Homo sapiens: one gene and its partner. The protein of the gene in region 1 purifies or fractionates together with the protein of each later gene. This does not show direct contact. Each region holds a gene or a part of one and is shown in the gene's direction. Other genes may lie near its edges.

Region 1 (3,758 bases):
CTGTGAGTCTGAATGAAGCCAGTCCCTTATTACTTGGGGAGGGAGATAGGTATGGAACACTGGCAAGTCAACATGAATGTTTCAGTTACATTTCAAGGAAGAAGGAGAAAATACCCATAGAAACAGGAGTGCTGCCTGCTTCTGCTTTCCCATGCTTCCTCTGTTTCTTTTCTTCCACAGCCCTATTGATGTCCAACTTACATCTTATTTATTTACATATTTTTCTTTTTTTGAGAAAAGGTCTTACTCTGTCACCCAGGCTGGACTGCAGTGGTGCGATCTAGGCTCACAGCAACCTCCCTCTCCTGGATTCAAGCAATACTCCTGTCTTAGCCCCCTGAGTAACTGGGATTACAGGCATGCACCACCATGTCCAGCTATTTTTTTTTTTTTTTTTTGTATTTTCAGTAGAGATGGAGTTTCACCATGTTGGTCAGGCTGGTCTCGAACTTCTGACCTCAAGTGATCCACCCACCTCTGCCTCCCAAAGTGCTGGAATTACAGACGTGAGCCACCACGCCTGACCTATTTTCAAAAATTTAAGTTTTCTATTTCCCAAAATATAAGTGCCAGGAAGGCAAGGATTTGTCTTTATTTTTGTTCACAGCTGTATTCCCACTACCTCAAATAGATTTTGGCATGCAGTAAATGCTCAAGAAATATTCATTAAACAAATGAATGGCCTTTAGGATGGCCATTTGCCAATAAGTTCATAAATTAGAAATTAAAATGGCCAGGTTAAAAAAAAAAAAAAAAACATTGTTTTTCTCCCCCCAAGTTAAATTAAAAGACCTTGTGACAATTAGTTCTGGCTCAACTAAAGTCTAACTGTGTGACTATAATCAATTTGCTTAACATTCTGCTCCTTCATTTCTCCATCTGGAAAATGGGCATAATAGTACCAGAAACATTCTTCAAAAGCTTTCAAGACTCTCAAAAGAGGCAACAACTATAAAAGCATTAGGTTCAAGATTCAATGCAGATGCTTAGCATTGTTTCATAAAATTAAATAAGGATCTCATTGTCCTTTAACTCACTAAGCTGGCAAAATTTCATTTTTCTGCTTCTGTTCTTATACATACTAAAGACTATACATTAAGCAACTTTCTGTATTTTCATTTCATCCAAAGTATTGTTGATATAAATTTTAATTAACCAATCATTTTCAAACAAAACTGTAATTTCTGACACTTTAAATTTGCCTTCAAAGTCACAAAGTTTTAAAGATAAAAATAGATATACTCAGAAAATCCAACCTGATATTTATTGAGACACGTGAAATGGCATTTTTCCAGGGTAATCATTCCTTCCCCCTCCCAATATGTCAATAACAAACCAGGGTTTTTGTGGTGGAAATTCCATTTATTCTCTTCTCATTTTCTCTTTCGAGCTAAATTCTATTGTAGAGTCTTCCCTTCCAACCTTTAAAAAGCGACCCTGTACCTTTAATAGTGGAGACCTGGTGAGAGGTTCTTTTCCAAACTTGTTCCCTGGCTTCCAAGTGACGAAACCAGCTGTAATTTGAGAGCAGAGAGATCCTCAGGATATCTTTAGCCAAAGGAAAAGCTCCGCATTCCCACCCAGTCCAGAAATTGAAATACTATCAGGGGGCAAGAGCCTTTCTCTCCAGCTACACACTCCATCTCCCGGGAGCAAGGGGAAACTCCGAGAGGAGGGCAACAGAGCCAGCATCTTGCCAGGGCCCCGGAGGAGGGGTTCCCCGCTACGCCTGTGCCGGAGGAGTTCCAGTCACCGAGCGAGGGGCGCAAGGGTGGGTGCATCCTGCGCTGCGGCGGGCGCGCTACCCAGACGCTGGTGTGCAGAGCCACATGAAGCCTGCTGGGGACTGGGGGCCAGGGAGCAGCAAGCCAGCTGGGACTGAGGCGGACGCTGTCTCAGGGAGACGCTGACTCGCAAAGACACTCCCTTCCTTGTGCCTGGGTAAAAAGTCTCCTCCTGGGGTCCCTGGCCATCCTGAATATCCAGAATGGTGTTTCTGAAGTTCTTCTGCATGAGTTTCTTCTGCCACCTGTGTCAAGGCTACTTCGATGGCCCCCTCTACCCAGAGATGTCCAATGGGACTCTGCACCACTACTTCGTGCCCGATGGGGACTATGAGGAGAACGATGACCCCGAGAAGTGCCAGCTGCTCTTCAGGGTGAGTGACCACAGGCGCTGCTCCCAGGGGGAGGGGAGCCAGGTTGGCAGCCTGCTGAGCCTCACCCTGCGGGAGGAGTTCACCGTGCTGGGCCGCCAGGTGGAGGATGCTGGGCGCGTGCTGGAGGGCATCAGCAAAAGCATCTCCTACGACCTAGACGGGGAAGAGAGCTATGGCAAGTACCTGCGGCGGGAGTCCCACCAGATCGGGGATGCCTACTCCAACTCGGACAAATCCCTCACTGAGCTGGAGAGCAAGTTCAAGCAGGGCCAGGAACAGGACAGCCGGCAGGAGAGCAGGCTCAACGAGGACTTTCTGGGAATGCTGGTCCACACCAGGTCCCTGCTGAAGGAGACACTGGACATCTCTGTGGGGCTCAGGGACAAATACGAGCTGCTGGCCCTCACCATTAGGAGCCATGGGACCCGACTAGGTCGGCTGAAAAATGATTATCTTAAAGTATAGGTGGAAGGATACAAATGCTAGAAAGAGGGAATCAAATCAGCCCCGTTTTGGAGGGTGGGGGACAGAAGATGGGGCTACATTTCCCCCATACCTACTATTTTTTTATATCCCGATTTGCACTTTGAGAATACATCTAAGGTCATCTTTCAAAAGAGAAAAATTGGACACTTGAGTGACTTTGTTTTTAGTTTTGTTTTTGTACATTATTTATGTGATTGTTATGGAATTGTCACCTGGAAAGAACAATTTTAAGCAATGTCATTTCTAGATGGGTTTCTAATTCTGCAGAGACACCCGTTTCAGCCACATCTAAAAGAGCACAGTTTATGTGGTGCGGAATTAAACTTCCCCATCCTGCAGATTATGTGGAAATACCCAAAGATAATAGTGCATAGCTCCTTTCAGCCTCTAGCCTTCACTCCTGGGCTCCAAAAGCTATCCCAGTTGCCTGTTTTTCAAATGAGGTTCAAGGTGCTGCTTTGCATGCCTGCCAACCCATGGAAGTTGTTTCTTACTTCTTTTCTCTCTTATTTATTAACCATGGTCTGAGAGTTGTTTTTGTTCTATGTAACAGTATTGCCACAAAACTATAGGCAAATCGTGTTTGCAGGGAGATTTCTGATGCCTCTGTGGGTGTGTGTAAGTTAAAGTGGCCACATTTAAGAAGGCCAAGCTTTGTAGTGGTTGCACAGTCACACTGATATGCTGATTTGCTCTTTCTCATTGTATGTCTATGCTTTGTCATCAGTGCTATAGTAAATTACAAAGAAATAGGTAGATTGTATGAACATACCCACAAATGCCTATGATTTAGGTTACCAATGTATTCTTTCTCATTTGGGGTTTTGCTTCTGTCTGTCTGTTTATTGGAAACTTGTACTTCAAGTAGGGGGAATCCTAATTCTAATAACTCCTTAGCTAAGTTTTATTATTCAGGCAATAAACATGTTTTCATGTAATACTGGCTTACTTTGTAATTTACATCTGTAACTTTCATATTTCTAAAAGGGGCCAATGCAAAAGGAGAGAGAAGGACTGGATTTAAGCCAGTTTACTTAGAGTATATGATAAAGAAGGCAGAGGAATAGCTACATATTTGGCAATTCTCCTCTCTGTAGTCACCCTGACATCCTCA
Region 2 (3,658 bases), on another chromosome or scaffold:
TAAAACCTAACTCAGATTTTTATCGGTGTTATGGAAAGCAACTTTAAAAAAAGGTTTGAAAAACATGCTAATATTGTAATCTAACAAACACTCAGAACTACAAATTGACACTTTAATTTGTTGATCTTTTAAAGAACAATGTGTATTAAATATCATTACCCTGAGCTAAATGACAAGTAAAGACAATACATGGAGAAACTGAAATTACATTTCAGTGATCAATTATTTTCAATTGCTTGTTAACCTCTGAAGAGTTTCTGTGAAGGAACATACCTAGGCTCGGTTTTGCTTATGTTCCATAATTCCTTACTTTTAAAAAAATATGCGTTCTGATGTTTTTGTATTCGTAAATTTTTAACTGTCCAACTCTGCATATATTAAGGTGGCACTGGCATCCTAAGTATGACTATATTTTAAAAGTGAGTAATTTTATTCTTATAACACTGAATATGCTTTCTTTATACTATGATGAATTTTGCTTTTCCGTCTTTTATTTGCGTAAGTAAAAATCTTCGTTTGTGCATCATCATGTATCTTTTTTTTTTTTTAACTGTAGGGCTGGCTATTTGCCTCAGAATATTCCTCTGGAGATTATCAGATACCTGTCTGAGGAGAAGGATTTTCTTCCTTGGCATGCTGCCAGCCGAGCTCTTTATCCTCTAGATAAATTACTGGACCGCATGGAAAACTACAACATTTTCAATGTAAAAAGATATAATTTTTCTTTCTAATTTTTAGAAGATACACTATTTTATTCTCTTTCTACTATTATATATGCAACTGATGCCAAGTTATTTTAGTTTGTTCTTCTAGTTTGTGTTATCCCGATTTTTGTCCTGATTGTCTATGCAACACAGATGACAATTATTTGAAGAAGAAATTTAATACAAAATGCTGACCTAAAAGTGTCAATTAAGCTTAAATGCTTCAGAATTTAAGAAGAAATATACATGGCAAATTTTTAAAGTTCAAACTTACTTTCCAAGAGTTAGAGGGCTCTGTGTTCACAAAGGACTTAACCTGGGTAGAAAGATCCCAAAGATCTTAACAGAATATAGGCATTTTCAGTAATGATTCTTAGTCATTATTTTTATCCAAAAGGGCATACTGAATTCAATTCACTGCCTTAATTAACAAGGATAAGATCAACATTGAGGCAAAAGCCCATTCGTAATTGGGTCCAAGGGGATACAGGAAAGCAAACAACAGACAATCCAAAGAGACAAGAAGACATGACAAACATTCCAAAATGTTACCTGACCAGATTTTCTGAACTCAAAACCTAGTAAACCAAAATTACACTGCTCATGCCACCTAATCTGATTTAATAATCATTTTCAATAATATTAGGATTAAGTACTGCTCATGAGCCTTTTGATTCTTAAATTTCTTATCACTGTGCCTTCCATGATGTTTGAACACTATTTGTTTTCCTTTAGTTAGCGTAAGAGCCTGCCCTGTGTTTTATAAAATTATCTTATTTTTTATACTGTACTAATTAACATACACATTTGGGATTACTGAAAAGTGGATTCCTGTGACATGAATCTTTTTATTGGAGCCATCTGATTTCTGATGCCCATCAGAATTCCTTCCTTTTTATTTTTACTTTAAACCTACAGAAAATAAACTGTTTAATGATTTTTTTTAAAAAATGGGAATAATTACGTTCATTGTTAGTTTTGTCTAAGCCCTTAGAACAGACATGCAAACAAATGGGTCATTACAGTTATGATACAATTTTTTACTTGCTAGAGAAAGATTACACATTAATTTCTCCCTAACACAAAGACACTGCAATATTAAACCTTTGTAAAAGTAAAATATATTTTTGAATATATTTGTACATTAGAATAGCGTATCATGTCAGATTCCTTGTTTTCAGTAAACAGTTAAGAATCATTTTTATTGTAATTTCATTGTTTGTATTCCTTGGCAAAATTCAAGAAGCACATTAAAGTGAGGGAGAGCCAACCTGGGCAACATGGTGAAACCCATCTCTACAAAAAAAAAAAAAAAAAAAAAAAGAAATACAAAAATTAACTGGGTGTAGTGGCTTGTGCCTGTATTCCCAGCTGCTCATGAGGCTGAGGTGGGAGGATGGCTTGAATCTGAGAGGCGGAGGATGCAGTGAGCCGTGGTTGTTGCCACTGTACTCCAGCCTGAGCAACAGAGTGGAGACCCTGTCTAAAAAAACAAAAAATAGTGAGGGAGAGCATGCCTTACCTTGATACTGACACTTAAATGTGTCATTAGCTGAATGAATTGTTGACTTTGAAATATCATTATAATTACACTGAAGAGTTCTGTGTATCTCAGCTTCATCAATACTAGGCCATTGGTTGGGCCAACATAGTAGTTTTGCATTAAATATGCCTTGTTGATATAAAATGCGTAAATATTAGATGTCCATTTTCATATAGTATATCTATATACATTTGTACATATGTACGCATAGGTGTTATCAATATTCTTTGTTTTCCTCATTTTGTTACAAAAGTCATCATCTAAAATATTTACTCATGCAAATTACTTAGTGATTTAATAGGAAGAGTAGACTTGTACCATTCCAATAGCATTTTATCCCTCTTTTCTATATATGAAATACTAAATTAAATAAAATTATAATAGAACATTACTGTACTTATAATTTTATGGATATTTGAAAGTAGGTACATTTTAAGAATATTTTAATTTTATTACAGAATTTTAATTGTCAGCATACAGAAGTTTTAAACTGACCTTATCTTTATTTATTCTATACCCCATTTAGGAATATATTTTAAAGCAAGTTGCAACAACATATATCAAGCTTGGGTGGCCGAAAAATAATTTTAATGGATCTCTTGTTCAAGCATCCTACCAACATGAGTACTGTTTTATTTTCTTATCCTCTTCTTTACCCCTAGAGCTGTATAATAATGTACTACTAGTGCCATTGTGACTTTAGCTGCATGAGACAATCTTCCTTTCATTCTTCATCTTACATTTCACTTTCCCGAGAGGACTGCTGCTGGGTAGCACAGTTTCCATTGCCTGATCCTGAGAACAAAGACGTTTCCTTGCTGTGTTTTAATTTAAGATCTACCTTTATTGGTGATATTGAGATCAGAACCCATGCCTCTCACTGGAGTACTGTTAAACTTTTAGTATGTTTAACTTCCACTCTGCCTAAGTGACTTTTACTCAGCAGCATAGGATTTCCAGATCTAAAAACCATTTTTATGTTAATAATTTACTTATCTACTATTTAGGGAATGAATTTCCCTAACTTTCTTTTTAATTTGTTTCCCTTTTGATGATATCTAGAGAACTACGTAGAGAAGTTATAATGCTGGCCTGCAGTTTTGGCAACAAGCACTGTCACCAACAGGCATCAACACTTATTTCAGATTGGATTTCCAGCAACAGGAACAGGTAAACTGAGCCAAATCCTGTATTTCTGATATTATTTAATAGTGCTTTCAGAGTCTCAGTGGATGCATTTCATTTACCAACTGGAGAAAAACAAGATAAGGAAAAACAAAAGCATGCAGCAACATTTTGTGTCAGGTTCACAGCTTCCAAGGCAATAGTGTGAAAGTCACAATACAGGTATCTTTGAAATGTTTCATTGACTTTATGCTAACTTTATTAATTTAGGTCTTTATTTTTAAAT

Evidence for each region.
Region 2: the proteins of FIBIN (region 1) and TRHDE purify together in Homo sapiens (affinity purification with mass spectrometry; one large-scale study listed by BioGRID and IntAct). This does not show direct contact.

What each region holds. Positions count from the first base shown.
Region 1 is NC_000011.10:26,992,540-26,996,297, forward strand, and holds the start of FIBIN (fin bud initiation factor homolog precursor), read left to right. Parts: upstream 1-1,572; 5' UTR 1,573-1,987; coding exon 1,988-2,623; 3' UTR 2,624-3,758.
Region 2 is NC_000012.12:72,618,335-72,621,992, forward strand, and holds part of TRHDE (thyrotropin-releasing hormone-degrading ectoenzyme), read left to right. Parts: intron 1-556; coding exon 557-704; intron 705-2,773; coding exon 2,774-2,871; intron 2,872-3,309; coding exon 3,310-3,417; intron 3,418-3,658. UniProt on the Homo sapiens protein: Specific inactivation of TRH after its release.